Homo sapiens: one gene and its partners. The protein of the gene in region 2 purifies or fractionates together with the protein of the main gene of each other region. This does not show direct contact. Each region holds a gene or a part of one and is shown on either strand. Other genes may lie near its edges.

What was found.
Region 1: the proteins of ASB3 (region 2) and SATB2 purify together in Homo sapiens (affinity purification with mass spectrometry, with the first as the bait; 2 studies listed by BioGRID). This does not show direct contact.
Region 3: the proteins of ASB3 (region 2) and LARP4B purify together in Homo sapiens (affinity purification with mass spectrometry, with the first as the bait; 2 studies listed by BioGRID). This does not show direct contact.
Region 4: the proteins of ASB3 (region 2) and FOXP4 purify together in Homo sapiens (affinity purification with mass spectrometry, with the first as the bait; 2 studies listed by BioGRID). This does not show direct contact.

What each region holds. Positions count from the first base shown.
Region 1 is NC_000002.12:199,268,966-199,273,182, forward strand, and holds the end of SATB2 (DNA-binding protein SATB2), read right to left. Parts: intron 3,708-4,217; coding exon 3,246-3,707; 3' UTR 540-3,245; downstream 1-539. UniProt on the Homo sapiens protein: Binds to DNA, at nuclear matrix- or scaffold-associated regions. Thought to recognize the sugar-phosphate structure of double-stranded DNA.
Region 2 is NC_000002.12:53,699,848-53,703,629, forward strand, and holds part of ASB3 (ankyrin repeat and SOCS box protein 3), read right to left. Parts: intron 682-3,782; coding exon 424-681; intron 1-423. Other genes in the region: GPR75-ASB3 protein, read right to left, coding at 424-681. UniProt on the Homo sapiens protein: Probable substrate-recognition component of a SCF-like ECS (Elongin-Cullin-SOCS-box protein) E3 ubiquitin-protein ligase complex which mediates the ubiquitination and subsequent proteasomal degradation of target proteins. Recognizes TNFRSF1B.
Region 3 is NC_000010.11:827,167-830,948, forward strand, and holds part of LARP4B (la-related protein 4B), read right to left. Parts: coding exon 3,701-3,782; intron 2,569-3,700; coding exon 2,515-2,568; intron 2,429-2,514; coding exon 2,219-2,428; intron 1-2,218. UniProt on the Homo sapiens protein: Stimulates mRNA translation.
Region 4 is NC_000006.12:41,552,638-41,556,419, reverse strand, and holds part of FOXP4 (forkhead box protein P4), read right to left. Parts: intron 1-3,782. UniProt on the Homo sapiens protein: Transcriptional repressor that represses lung-specific expression.

The sequences.
Region 1 (4,217 bases), about 150 Mb from region 2:
TAGTCTTTTGAGCAGTTTTTTCCATTGTAAGTACTTTCTAAAAAATCATTTTCACACATTTCTCAGATACATCAATCCTTTCAGCATTCCTCCATGCACACATTATGGTACCCCAGCTCTAAATATAAAAGACTTTTATTATGTCCATTAACCATGGACATATGTGCTCCAAAAGTTTCCTGACACGCAGTCATTTGTGGTTTTTTAATTATAAACAGAAAATATTCACTAGAAAAATAAAACAGCAGCCTATAAATATATCTTTATACATTTGAGTTTTGTTTGTATATGACAAAAGATTGGATAAAGGAAGTGAGCATGCATGTGTTTATATACACACAGAGACACACATACATTCACATGTGCTATTAAATCCATGCACTGTACAGGACTCATATATCTGTAATTGCAGGTACCACTGTCTTGTTTCTAAAATAAGGGTACAAATTTTCCTAAGACTCACCAGGTCTCTCTCTGCATGAAAAATTAAGTGGGAAAGCAGATAATGCCCAGTAAAATAACTGACAAACAAAGTCATATTTATTGAATGCGTTTATTTTAACAACCAAAAAATTCTAACAGCCTAACAATGCACATAAGTTAAAAATTAATTATCACTTAGTGATAACAAAGATAGTTGATTTACATGGAAAAAAGAACATTTACAATATGTTAATCCTTATTCACATTGTTGATACCGCAATAAAACACAATTTGTTTTTTTCATTTCACAAAAAAAAAAAAAGGCGGGAAATTGTGCTTTGTCAAGAGGCACTACAAGAGAAAGTTTCTTCTTCCAAATAGATATTATATGACAGATATTGAATAAATAGACATATATGCATTGTAATTCGCAAAGATCTGGCAAGACCACAGGCTAAAATGCCCACAGATTCACTTAGAACCACTGCAAACTTGGCAGTGAAATTAAAAAATAAAAGGCAAGACTTAGCATTGAAAAATACCTAATAAATTTTTGGTTGAAGTGTAAAAGATACCAAATGCGGATGCCATCGATAGATGAACCACCTTGTAAGAGCTTGGCAAAATCAGTTTCCATTACGTGTACAGAGTGACCTTCAGCAACAGTGTAAGAAGACAATTTGGAAAGAGTAACTCGGAGATCAGGAAGCAGCAACCATGGACTTTCTGATTAAAGCTGCAGCATACTACAGAAATAGGAAGGATGGGGCCAGGGCTAACTGCAAACAACCATCCTTTTGCAAAGGTATATGACGCTTATGTCAAGATAATTTTTAAACATCATTATTTGAAAAAGTACAGGAAAATGTCCCTTTAAAAACTCCAGAGGTTACTGAGCAGCTAGAATTAGCTTGTATTGCAACATGTCTTCTCCCTGTATATTGTAAGTTCTGAGTTAATATCTACACATAGAGGTTTTTTTTTTAACTCCTACCTTTTATACCTTTCAAATATATAAATAGTATTAACAGTTATATTACAATGTTTGTGTAGTAAACAGAAAATAACTTTCAAAGTGATATTGCATGAGGTCTTTGACAAGGTTTTGTGAAAGCACAACTCAAAAAAAAAAAAAAAATCCAACCATGTGGGACTGTTTAATGGCCAGTTTAAAGCATGGATTACGTTCACTAGGCCAGTCCTGAATGTGAGGTCTCCTCTTGCAATTACTGTAAGTAGAAGTGGAAAGTAATGCTTCTGGTGTTTCTCATAGGAAGCCGAAAGAGATCTGGAGTACTATAGTAGATTGCAGCTTTAATGCTCATCCCATTAAACATCCAGTCAGCATTAGTTCTGCTTTACATAAGGTAATTGCGATGTAGGTAACTGGGATAATGTTTTCTTTTAGGATGAGTAAGTGATTCTACTGAAATCGCTTCACATACTCTATTGCCTGGAGCTGCACAACGATTCAAAAACAGTTCTTGTTAGGGCTGTCATCCCAGGAAAAGGGACAGGAGAGATCAGGGACTGAAAATGTTTGATTAGGTAGATGGAATGTGTACGAAGAAGAGGAAGCCCAAAGTGAAGCAGAAATCAGAAATGTCTTTTGGGAGAGGGAAGGATGGAGATTTATTTGAGAGGGAGCCCCTTTAACTGGGCAGCAACTTCTTTTCTAACTTAATATTACACTGAACTATTTTCTAGTAAAAAACAAAAAGACAAAAAAACAGCAACAACAAACAACTTTTAAACGAGCAGGCTTATTAATTTTCAGATTTGAAGCCACAAGCAGGTAAATAAATTTCACAACAAAATGTGGCTCATACTATGAATTCCATATGTCCAATGTCAAAATGTCATTTGATCAAGACTTGCACTAGTGGACAAAGTTTTCTCTGCACTGAATTTCAGTTTTACTTATTTGGAATTCCACAGAAATGCATCTGTTCACTACAGTAATGACAAATTGAATAACGGAACGTAGCAAGTCATTTTATTGAGTCATTTTAAGTGTGCATTGTGTCTTTAAGATTTATTTGACTTGTATCATTTTAATGTGCCCTGATTGTTTTCACTTCACTTTTTTTTTTTTCGGCAGTGTCGTTTATTTTGTTAAATACATACCTCAAAAATTACCCATTAAGCTGCCAGATAGGAAGCCATAGAATTAAAAAAAAAAAATCAGGGACAAACACAAAAAATAAATAGGAATTCAAAAATAGTCACCCCACCCTGAGAGCAGGCCGCAGTTTATCAAAAAGCCAAAGCGACTCACTGTGAAGTGGTTTTTTTAATACATAAACAAGTCTTTTCTTTAAGAACTCATTTCACAGTCTATTCTTTCGGATTGCAAAGTCTCTGTCCCATGCAATTTTAATATATATATGTAAATATAGAGATATATACATATACATATACACACACACTTGTAGCTTCCTTCATTTATTTCATAGTTCTTTTCATCCTGGTACTTGCCTGATGTAACTTCCGTTAAGTGCAAGGATAATGAAGGCAGAGTCTCCTGTGATTATAATGACTATGATCCAGTCATAGAGACGGGATAAAGTGTAACGCTTTAGTGTCTTTGCCAAGGCGATGTCTGATTCGGAAATACTGAACTTATTCAGTCTATAGGTGTATCCTGTGCAACAAAGAAATGTCCAAAAGGGTAAGAAAAACAAAACAGACATAAAAAGACAAAAATAAAGCCAAAAAAACCCAAAAACAAAAACAAAAAACAAACTAACAAAAAACTTTTAAAGAAATGAAAGCAGAAAATCCTTGGACCGATGTATTGCTTTGCCTAGTAGAAGTTCACATTATCTCTGGTCAATTTCGGCAGGTGCTGCCTTGCTTTTGTCAGCATTTTCCTCCTCAGCCTCCACTTTGTACATCTCCTCGGAGCCTTCCTCGCTGTCGTTCTCCTCTGACTCGGTCAGCAGCTCCTCGTCCTTATATTCAGCCACGTCCACCGCGGAGCCCAGGTGCTCTTTCAGCTTCCCGTGGTGCTTCACGTGGTACCGCTGGTTCTGGAAGAACTTGATGATGGTGTGTTTGGGGAGATCCAGCTGAGCCGAAAGAGTGTGGATGGCTTCCTGGTCTGGGTACAGGCCTACATCATGAATAAAGCTTTGGAGGATCCCCAGGGCTTCTAAGGAGATCTTTGTGCGAGACCGGGGCTTTTTGGCACAACTGTCTTCAGTCGGAGGAGGTGGGGGAGGCGCTTCTTCTCTGGGAGGGGAACTCTCCTTGGCTGGCTGAGACTGCTGTCTATGAAGTACCTGATAATTAAGAGAGAAAAAAATGAACACTGGACTCATGATTTTACCTTTCCAAAACCATCAGCCCTCTGAAATATGTGTTATCTATCTAGCACTGGAGGTAAGCTATAGTCATTTGTAAAGTCAGGTCTTTGGAAAGCTTAAAAGCATTTCTGGACATTTAGTATCTCACCTACAAAACAGGAGGTTCATAACAGTAGTATTTGCCATCATTTATATTCTGAGATGCAAAGTCAAGTCATTTATTGCCTAAGGTCATCTCACTTTAGGCAACCTGGCTTCAGAGTCTTCTATACCTGTAACCACCAAGATATGCCACCTCTCTGAAGGCTAACGACAAAGAAATTGGGCACAAAGGGGAAAGTATGGACTCTATCATCATGGCTTCAAGTTCATATTCTTCCACTTAGCTGAGTAACCCTGGGCAAATCACTTAATATCTTTCAGCCTCTATTTCATCATCCATAAAAGTAGGATAAGAAACCAACCTCCTAGAGATGTTGTAAGGAT
Region 2 (3,782 bases):
AGTATTTATTAAGGGTGACAAGTTTCAAATACACAGGATGCTGTACGGCAGGACTATTCAGTCTGGTTGGCTGAGGGATAGACAACAGAAATCTCCAAAGCAGCTCCAAGCATTCTTTCTTCTGTTACAGGCATTTTAAGAGAAGCATGAGGAATGCCCAGAAGTCGAAGAAATATCCCTCTTAGAAGAGCTCACTGGCATCTATCCCCTCATACCTCCTTCCAGTCACCTCTTATCTTTTCCCAGGACTCTGTGCTTAAATTCAATCTCATTATTAGCAGCCACCAACTCCTTCACCCCAATTCAGCCATCACAGTCAAAACACAGATACCCTTCTCCAAACACTGGGATCTCAACTGAAGGAAATTAAAGGTAGTATATTCACTCAAAAAGGGTAAGCCCGACTATGGTAGAATTTCTTACCAAGAATTGCACAGTAGAATCAGTGGGTCAAATCCAGCAACCAGAAGATGTGGCAACCACTCCTTATATTTTGCTTGTGCTTTAATTGCATGATTTACAAATTCATATATATGGTTCCATGGTCCCAATGAGCAACCTTTCCTCAAAAAGTAGCGAAATATCGAAAACTTCTCGTACTTCAGGCAGTATGCCAAATGAAGTTCATTTATCTGGGCTCCATATTTCAAAAGAATGTTCACAATTCCAAAGAACTCACAGCTCCACCATAAAAAATAAAAACAAAAAAAGAAGAAGTTAGACTTTGACATAAGATACTTCTTACAAACAGTTAATAGTAGTTACAGCTGGGGAATAAGTATGGCAGATTAAATAGTGGATGGTTTCTACACATCTAGTGGATTGAGATTAGAGAATGTGGTGGGGCTTTTGCTTTTTACACCCTCCTGCATGGTTTTTAATTTTCAACTGTGAACAGGTATTATTATAATTTAAAACATTCATCTTAAATGTCATTTTAAAAAAAATTATCATTGACAGAAAACTCAAATTGTGATATTTTGTACAAATGAGTATCTTTACTACAAAATACTTTGCTTAACAAAATCAATAAACAACGTGATCAATCCTTAAAACTAAATGATTCTAGGAATCTCTAAGATATCATTTTCCTTAGCAATAACCTTAGCCAATTTCCCTCCCACTTTAAACTTATTTATTTTTCTAGATACAGGGTCTTGCTCTGTGGCCCAGGCTGACGTGCAGTGGCACAATCAAGGCTCACTGTAACTGAACTCCTGGGCTCCAGTGATCCGCCCACTTCAGCCTCCTGAGTAGGTGGGACTACAGCTACATGCCACCATGCCTGGCTAATTTTTAAATTTTTTTGTAGAGACAGAGTCTCACTATGTTGCCCAGGCTGGTCTCAAACTCCTGGCCTCAATGAATCCTCCCGCTTTGGTCTCCCAAAAGGTATGCCACCGTGACTGGCCTTACATTTATAATGGTATTAAAAAAAATTTAAAAACTTTTTTAATTAACACAAATTTAATTTACAATACTACATCTTAAAATTAATTAACTTCTATTATTATCTCCATTGTAGATGCAAAAACTGAAGCTGAGTCACAGAGCTAGTAATTGGCAGAACTGGGATAATGATATCAAACCAAAATCTAACAGTGAATATGACATAGCAAATTTCTGCAATATCTCTTCTCTATTATGAAAACTGAACACTTCATGATATAGCCAAATTGAAGAATATTTTAGAGCCAGATCTATGTTTTCCAAAGTAGGTTACACAGAACTTTAGTTCCTGAAAATGATCCATATGAAAAATACTCTCCAGTGAAAAAAACTGAGAAACCTCCTTATACAGTATACAGTGAGCCTGAGAAAGATAGGATGAATGTATTTTTAAACAATGTGTTAGTTACATTTCCAAATATATGCTCAATGTTTTTATTCAACTTTCAGATACTTTTCAGAAGAGGTACCTTTAAAATTAACAATGGGTCCAATCATTAATCTGAAAAAAGCAAACAAAAGTATAAAATGCCCAAAATTCTGTAAACACAAGAACAATGGTATATATACTTAAATATAAGTTCTATCCTATGTTTCTGGACTTTTCAAATCTTTGTAGATCCATTCCTCTTTTAGGAATTCACAAAGCACACTACAATAAGAAAAATTCTCAAAAGCCCTCTACAAAAGAAACATATTCAATATTATTTAATCCTGTACTTCCCAAACTTATTTAACAATACAACCCCTTTAATCCCATATAATATCTATTAACAATCTACAGAATTAGTATTCTACCAAAACACACTTTAGAAAATCAGCTCTAAACCTCTTCCAATTATTCACATTGCCTTGTATTAGAAGGGGCAAGAGTAAATCCCAAAAGGCTTATAAAACTGCACAGTGCTACAATATAGACCATTTCCCAAAAAAACTACCATTTGTTTGAAGAATAAAATAAACACAAAATAAACTGGAGAAGCATAGAGTTTTGTCAGCATGCCCTGAGCTTCTGGGAAGGTTATTAAAGAAGGTCTCAAATACATGTGCACACTACAGAAACACAAGCAACTTCAACTTCAGGGCTCTATATGACCTTGATTATTACATGTCACTAAGCACACAATAAATCCTTGAGCATGGATAACCTCTGGTTAAAATATAAATTAGTATGTATTTCTCTTAACACTTCAACAAATTCTCTCTGTAGCCCTAATATCAAATTGAGAAAACTCTTCAAGTACCCGAGATTTAAACAAAAGTCTATCTTGTTTAACATAAATATCAAGAATTAATTGTGACATAGAGGGACTGTACATTATATAAGAAGTGAACAACATCAGATACTGAGAGGAGAGATTTAAAAATTAAAATCCAATGTCTAGACCTTATTTTGGGGGTTTGCACATTTTCTACCACTCCGCTCCTTGAAGTTCAAAACTATGCAGAAAAACAGTGCTCACACATAAAAGAAGCACAGTAAGAGAAAATTCAACATGAAAACAAAATTTACTTTAAACAAATAGAAATGGGCAAATATCTTCAGCATTTTATGTTCAATTAGCAAACAAAATATCCAACCAACTTATTAGGTGAATTATAACAGGCCAAATAGTGAGTTTTACTGAATGGCTTTCGACCATTAGCTGAAAACAAGATGAAGACATTCAGTTTTGTCAGATGTGCCCACACGATATGGTGGCTAGAATGGACACAATTAATTCTATGAAACTAATGTAATAACAATGATTAGTATCAACTAGAAAAACAGACAAAACCAGGTGAGCTAAGCCACAATCTACTTCTGTGGCCATATATAAAAGGCATTCATATTTGCTCAAACAGTCCTAAAACTTCTCAACTTCCCTCTTCCTTTCCCATTCCATTTGGAGGAATCTTTTTCTTATATTTCCTCATTCGAGATGGATTACTCAATTACTCTTGAAAGACTGGCTTCATATCAATATAGCTGCTAACTTTTTAGCTCCAAAGGACAAAAACTGCTTTTGTTGCAGGATCTATACAGTAGTGGAGGAGACACCTTTCCATCATCCCTGGGAGTGGTGAAAGGAGCTAAGTGTCATTCTCACAAAGAATACCTACCAAAAATGTTTCAGAACACTGATACTGAGCTTAAAAGTTGAATTAGCTGAAAAAATAATAAGGAAGAGAAAACTTAAAACCTGGGGCACCTTAGGAGGCCAAGGCAGGAGGATCACTTGACCTCATAAGTTTGAGGCTGCGGTGAGCAATGATTGCACTACTGCACTCCAGCCTGGGCAACAGAGTGAAATTCTATCTCAAAACAACAAGAATAAAGAAAATCCAAAGCT
Region 3 (3,782 bases), on a different chromosome or scaffold from region 2:
TCAAGAGGCTGAGGCAGGAGAATGGCGTGAACCCGGGAGGCGGAGCTTGCAGTGAGCCAAGATCCGGCCACTGCACTCCAGCCTGGGCGACAGAGAGAGACTCTGTCTCAAAGAAAAAGAAAATACATCACACTTGAAGAGCCATGAATGCAGACCTGGATCTGAGGCTGTAAATCATGGGCAGAGCAATGAGGACTAATCATTTCCAGCAAGTCATTTTACAGACAGAGCCCTGATATTCCAGTAATTTTGCTCAAGATAAAAAATAAAATTGGTCATATATAAAAAATAAAGTTGATTATTAATGCGTTCCTATTATTACTTGTTGGGGATTAATAGGCACAATCTCTTCAGCTGCAGAACAAAGGACGCACATGTTTTAGCACAAGTAAAAGGCTGCGATGGAGAGCCCCAGTATCACAGACTCAGAGCAGGACCAGCTGTCTGGCACACACCGCAACCTGAACATACAACATAAGTCAAGGCCATAAGCTGACCCAGAACCCCAAGGATCCCCGAGAGGGTCAACCATGATTAAAGAAACGGAAGAAGCAACTGCTGCAGGAAGAACTGAAAGGACTAGCATGGCAAGCCACGTGCAGCGATGATTCTTCAACACCCAGAGCCTACGGACTCAAGTCTCTCTGAGGTTCTCTCATGATATGCTTTTGGGAAAACGAAGTATTCAGCTATGGGTACACTTTTATAGAATGTGCTACTTCAAAAAGCCAGAAACTTTTCTTACCATCAGGACTTACTCAAAAGAGACAGAAGTAACTTTACCAAAGGTTCTTACACTGCGGTGGTTCCAGACTCAGGGGGAATTGGGGTCCTCTGAAAATCTCTCCCTGTCCCCACCTGCCCTTCACACGGCCTTAGGAGCTATTTTCTAAATGGAGTATGGTTTCATTTCTCCGCTTAGAAACCTCAGACACCTTCCCACAAGCACTAGGCCAAAGCCCACATGCCTCAGGACAGCTAAGCACCTGCGCAGTTAGGCCTGGAAACTGCCAGCTCGTTCCCCAACTCCCTGCCACCCGGTGTACGCTTCAGCTCAGACACCCATGAATCTACGACCATCTTCTGTTCATGAAACTTCTCTTTGATTCCTTCTGAAAAACTCATACTTAACCTGAAAAGCTCAACCTAGATGACAACACAATCCCTGATAAGACCTGTCAGTGTTCTGGCATTCTGTACACGTGTCTCCTTGGCATGTTTGACTTTTCCAGCCTGAGTTGTTTCATGGACCCGTATCTTTACTTTCCGTGTATACAGGCACTTGTTTTCTCAAGTTCTCTCTGCTCTGCACCTACCCTCCTTTTCTGCCTGTCAGCGGTGACATCCCTGCACATCAGGGTGCCTGGCTCCCAGCCATCCGACCCTGAGGACCACTCAGTCTTTCCCTTAGTCCACAGCGAAACCCTGGACATGAACTCTTCTCAAAGTTACTAACTCAATTTCTGCTTTCTGACCATAACCTTCTATGTATGCTACCCTTCAATCTCTCCAATTCCAACTAACCTGCATTGCTACCTCATGCAAACCTCTAGGCCATGAACCCATCTTCACTTCTCAACTAGACTTCAGCTTCAAGGACATGCTCATCCGTGTATTGCTGACTCTCGTGCATCCAATGCCACCAAACTCATGCTAATTCCCACCCAGAATGCACTTGATCTTTCAAGCATCTATAGCAGCACACAAAGAGACAATGTCTAGATCCAGTACAGACTTATGAATTCCAACCATAGGCCTTAACAAAGGCCAAAATCCATAAAAATTAATCCTGTCGACCAACTCTAATGCTGGTGAGAAGTGAGTAAAATAAGGCTGGTAAAACAGCAGGCCTTCTCCTTGGCCTTGCTGTCAGAAGCCTATTAAACACCTCTTCCTCCTCAGTTAATCCCCCTTGCATTGTACTCTGTGTAGGGGACGCCAGGTACACTACAGCACTTATCGCCCTCTGCGTCTTGCTAAGAGCTGCATGACAAGAGGGGAGACGGGCTGTGCAAGGATTGTGCTCACAGCAATCCAAAGTTCTTTATGCATAAGCTCTGTTCTCAGCTACATTTAAAATCCCCCACATAACTTGAAGGTCTGTTTTAGTATGTCAGACTGCACACATATCTGGCTTCCTATTAGATGAGGATTTTAATCCTTCAAATTATCTAGCATAGTGTCTACAACATAAATTCCTAGTAAAGAAATGACGTACCAAGGGTGGGTCAAGATAGCTGTGCGTTGCTGACCACGTCTGGGGAGTGATCAGGCTGTACAGGGGGAACTGCTGCTGGGGGCTGTACATGGGAGGGAAGTAGAACGACGTCGCGTAGCGCTGCTGGGCATACAGGCTCACGTCCAGGGGTCTAAATCCATTCTTTGGCAAAAATGTGTTTATAGCTATTGCCTTTGCTTTTATCCGTGCCTGTTTGAAAATATGTAAGTTTCTATTAGAATACTTAAGAACATCAATTTGCAAATAAACAAAGTATAACCAATGGTCTTGCTTACCTTAATTGGTTTTCCTTGAAAAGTTTTGACTTCTTCTCGAAGGTATTTGTAAGCCTAAGGGCAAAATTAAGTACAAAATTCCATTCGATTAACCTTATGAATAAGAGGCACCAATAGTTCACTCAATAGCTCAAATAGGGAAATATATAATTAAATTATGGTGAACAGAACCTAGAATAATGATTCTTGACACTCCCTGGGTCACAGATCCCTTAAAATAACCTCATAAGAGCTATGGAACGTGTACCCCAAATTCTCACAAACAAGATTTGTACACAATTTTGTAAGTATTAACAGATGCCATAGAAGTCTCCCAAAGACCACTGGCTAAGAACCTTGACCTGGTGGAAAATGATGAATACTGAGTTCCTAGTATTCATCCCAATTTCAGATTAGGAGAATGCAGTTCAGGAAATACCAGACAGGAAGGAAAAGGATTAGGATCATAACATCCAAAAGTCATTCTTGATATATCTCCTTGTTCTTCTCCATGTTAATTCTACATTAAACCCCTATAAAACTGTGAAGGCCCTGCACCTGATTCAATATCATCCGACCACATTCGCCACACGGGCTGGCAGAGCTCACACTCCACTCCACAAAAATGGTTACTCTATCTTCCGTTCCCCTTTTCCCCCTCCATCCAATTAAAACCCATCTTTCAGGTTTCTGTGTTTTCTTTTCTGAACCCCACATACTGTTTATACCATTTAACACTTTATAATATGTGCGTTAGTTTCCTCACAAATAAGATGCTTCCCTTAAAAGCAGGAAAACTACTAACTCCTCACGCCTCCTTACAGAGCTTACTTCTCAATACCATTAAAAGCATCTTCCAAAATACAATGAAGTCTGCTGGGAGATGAAGATTAGGTTCAAATTTCCCCCCAAACACTTTGCAAATAGTAAAACTTCTCTGCCCAGATAGAAGAACAAAACTGATTTTCCTAGGTTGCTTAGCTTGTTGTCCTTAGAAAGTAAAATCACATGCTTTTTATATTGCTATAAAAATTGTCCATACAAATACACTCAAATATTTAAGTTTCTACAACTTGATTTCCTCTGCAGATTATATTCAAACTTACCATCACAAGTAATCTCAATGCCCAAGTTTAGTCCCAACATGCACTAATAGTAAAAACTGGTAAACTATGCAATTCATAGGGTGATGGTGGAAAGAACTTACCTGTTGTGCATCAGCTTCTGTTTCAAATGTAATAAACCAATTATCATTATATGCAAATTCACAGTTTATAAATTTTGGTAAA
Region 4 (3,782 bases), on a different chromosome or scaffold from region 2:
CCTGGGAGGTGGAGCTTGCAGTGAGCCAAGATGACGCCACTGCACTCCAGCCTGGGCAACAGAGCGAGACTCCATTTCAAAAAAAAAAAAAAAACATTCACAGAGTCCCCAAGAGTGCTTTCCTATAGCCCCTCCCTCCTCTCTCCCCCATGCAATTTTGCGCTCATTTTGACAGAGGATGGAACCACACTTCAAAGATGCCAAAGACTTGACAAGGTTACCTGACTGCTAAGTGACTGAGCCAAACTGAAACCAGGTGGCTCTCCTGACTCCTAAACCAGTGCTCCTCCCCGCGTCCTAACTCCCCGAGTCACTCTGGAATCCAAGCCTTCCCTTACCCCTACCACCACCCTCCACCTTACCTTTTACTGGCTCCATCCCTGAAACGCTCCCACAGGCCCTGGCAAGGTGGCCTCCCTCAATACCCCTTCCTACTACACAGACCAAAAAAAAGAATTAACAATACAGGGGGAAAAAAAGAAAGAGAACCAAAGATCCCACTCCATCTCATTAAGAAAGTAAACATAAGAGCCATCTAAGTGTCTAATTAAGCTTCTAATTAGTCCCTGCTTGTTACTAATGCAAATTAGATTACTCCGCTTAACTACAGCATGTCCACAACACCCTTGTTAATTGCGGCCTTTTGAAATTAAATTACTCCCTAATTAGCATATCAAAGCCATTGATTCGGAGCTGGGAAAGATGAGGGCAAGAGGAGCCGAATGCCAAGTTTGGTTAATCAGAGACGGCTAATTAAATAGTGACGTCTTATGTGGGGGGCCTGCTGGTTAAGGGGTAGGGGCAATTCGCCCAGGGCCTGAATGGCCATCTGGAGCCTGGTTCTGGTGGTGCCTTTGGCACCAGGGTTTCCTTTGGGCACAGGAGGGGCTCTAGAGGGCCTGGGACAAACCACTGAGTATGGCCATTTCTGGGCCCCTGGCTGTTCTGCCCAGCCTGCCCCGACATGCCTTGGCCCCTCCCTTCATTTCCTCAGATGTAGGGGGCAAGTGATGACTTTATCATAGAGGGGCTCACCCTGGCAGGGATGCGCTGATTTCATCTTGAAACAGGCCCCCGGAGACACAAGGCCTTATGGTACAAAGACCTAACCTCTGTGGTAGAAAGAAGGCAAAAAGAATCACCCACAACCATCAGTTCTTTTTTTTTTTGAGACAGGGTCTCACTCTGTGTCGCTCAGACTGGAGTGCAGTAGCGCGATCTCGGCTCACTCACTGCAACCTTTCCTCCTTGGCTTAAGTGATCCTCTGGTCTCAGCCTCCCGAGTAGCTGGGACTACAGTCACATGCCACCACACCCTAATTTTTGTATTTTTTGTAGAGAGGGGGTTTCACCATATTGCCCAGGCTGGTCTCAAACTGAGCTCAACTGATCCTCCCACTTTGGCCTCCCAAGTGCTGGGATTACAGGCATGAGCCACTGCGCCCATCCCACCATCAGTTATTAAGTAGCTGTGTGGGAATTAGATTTGGGTCAGGGTGTCCTTATAGGTCCTCTCTCTGAGATCTTCTTGTACAGACCCTGCAGTCTTTTTTTTTTTTGGAGGCAGAGTCTCATTCTGTCGCCCAGGCTAGAGTGCAGTGGCACAATCTCGGCTCACTGCAACCTCCGCCTCCCGGGTTCAAGCAATTCTCCTGCCTCAGCCTCCTGAGTAGCTGGGACTACAGGTGCCTGCCACCACGCCCGGCTAACTTTTGTATTTTTAGTAGAGATGGGGTTTCGCCATGTTGGCCAGGATGGTCTTGAACCACTGACCTCAGGTGATTCACCTGCCTTGGCCTCCCAAAGTGCTGGGACTACAGGCATGAGCCACTGTGCCTGGCTAGACCCTGCAGAGTCCTTCAGACACTGTCCCACACTAGATTCTCCTTGAGGAATACTGGGGACAGGTGAATCTCCATGTCAAAGCTGCTAACCAAAATGCCTTCAGGGGCTAGGCTGGTCACTTAGGAGGCCAGGTGAGGAGGGCACGAGGAGGCAGCTGCCACTCAATCCCAGTCCATCCTTTCCACACAGAAATGCAGGCTCAGTGTTGACAGGGCTTGGGTTTTTCAAAAGGAGCAGAAGTGGGGATATTTATGTGAAATTTACCATTGTAATGAACTGTGTGTGGGTCAACAAAACTCAGCAGGGATGAAGTTAGTCCACTTGTGACCTCAGCCCTTATGGCCAGCATTTCAGAAAGGCAAGTTCCAGTTAACTGTGACTCGGGGCAAGTCAGGTAACCTCTCTGGGCCTGGGTACTTCACCTATCAAATGAGAGTGATAATTACCACTGCCTGGAGAATCTTTCAGGGTTGTTGTGGGGATAAGAACAAGGAGGTATGTGAAACGGCAAAGCACAGTTCCTCAGTCAGGGCCTGGTGACTACCTAGCTCTACCTGCCACAACAACCTCCCAGGTTTCCTAATAGGGATGTCCTATTAGAACTTCCTTCCCCCATCTTCCATGCAGGGGGCAGAGCAAGGGCTTCCAAGTGTCCTTGAAAATGCTGAGGGCTTGTTCCTGCAGATATCTGACCTGACTGTTGGGAGGCTTGGAGGTACCACACACCTATGCCCTCTGCCCTGTGTTTTAATGGATCAGTTCTGGCAGGGGCAGCAGCTTCTGAATGACAAAATCCTGAGGGTTAAAAGGTCCCTAGCTTGGTCCTTCTCTACCTCCTCTGTCCCCAACTAGGGTGCAGTCTGTTCCCAGCTCTTCCTCCCTCCCCTAGTCCTCCTAAGTTTCTCACCAGAAGCCCCTGGAGCACACAGGATCACGGCCAAATTCCCAAAGGGTGAGATTCTGTTTACTTAAGGAGAGATCAGACAGGGTCCAGGGGAGGGGAAGTCCTCCTGCCCCCACCTCTGAAAGGGCAAATCCCAGCCAGTACCCAGTCCATGGGTATCCATCCAAGCCAAACTGGGCAAAGGGGCACAGAGCAGTGGTTTTATTTTAGAAAATAAGTGCAATTAAAAGAAAGGCAGAAAAAAAGGAATGGGGGAGGAGAAGGCTGCCCTGGTGTGAGGGGGAGGGGGGATGGCGGCACACAAGGGCCAAGCTGAAGCTCGCCTCACCTCGCGGAGCTCTCTCTCCCAACGAGATTCAATTAATTGATAACATGAGGCATCAAATTAATTTCTGGAGAATGTGAGATTCTGATGAAGGGAAATCTCGTCGATGGGGATCGGGTGGGAGGGGGCAGGCAGCACCCCTTTTAATCAGGCTCCACTGCCTAATTGGGAAGGAGGAGACTTGCATGGGTCATAGTGTCCTCTGCCCCGAGCTCCACAGCACCCCTTTCAAGAAGGACCCATGGAAGTAGGCTCCCGATGCCCTTGGAACAAAGAGGGTGTACGTTGAGACCTTCAGGTCTCTTCTTGCCTGGCTCCCAACCCACAGCTTCAGGATGGTGAGCCCGAGGATGTGGGGCTGCAGGTGTCCTCTTCACCCACTGTACAGTTAGGAAAACTGAGGCCCAGAGAGAAGACGGGTCATGCCTAAGGCCGAAGAGTGAGTTAGGAAGTTGGCAGCAGTGGGCTTACCGGGGACCCTCATCATGTACCCGTGTGGGTACAGACTGTTTAGGCCTAGACCCACAAAATCATCTCTGAGCACAATCGGTGGGCAGCTTTCTCTGTGGCTAAACACTGCCATGCTGCCTGAGCCGTCCCCTCTTCCAGTGTTTCCGGATCCCCAGCTGCCGGCCCGAGCTAGCCCAGCTGCAGTTCTTTTCTCTGCGTCTGGTGAGTGCCGAAAACCCCTTGTGTTATATCCCTGTG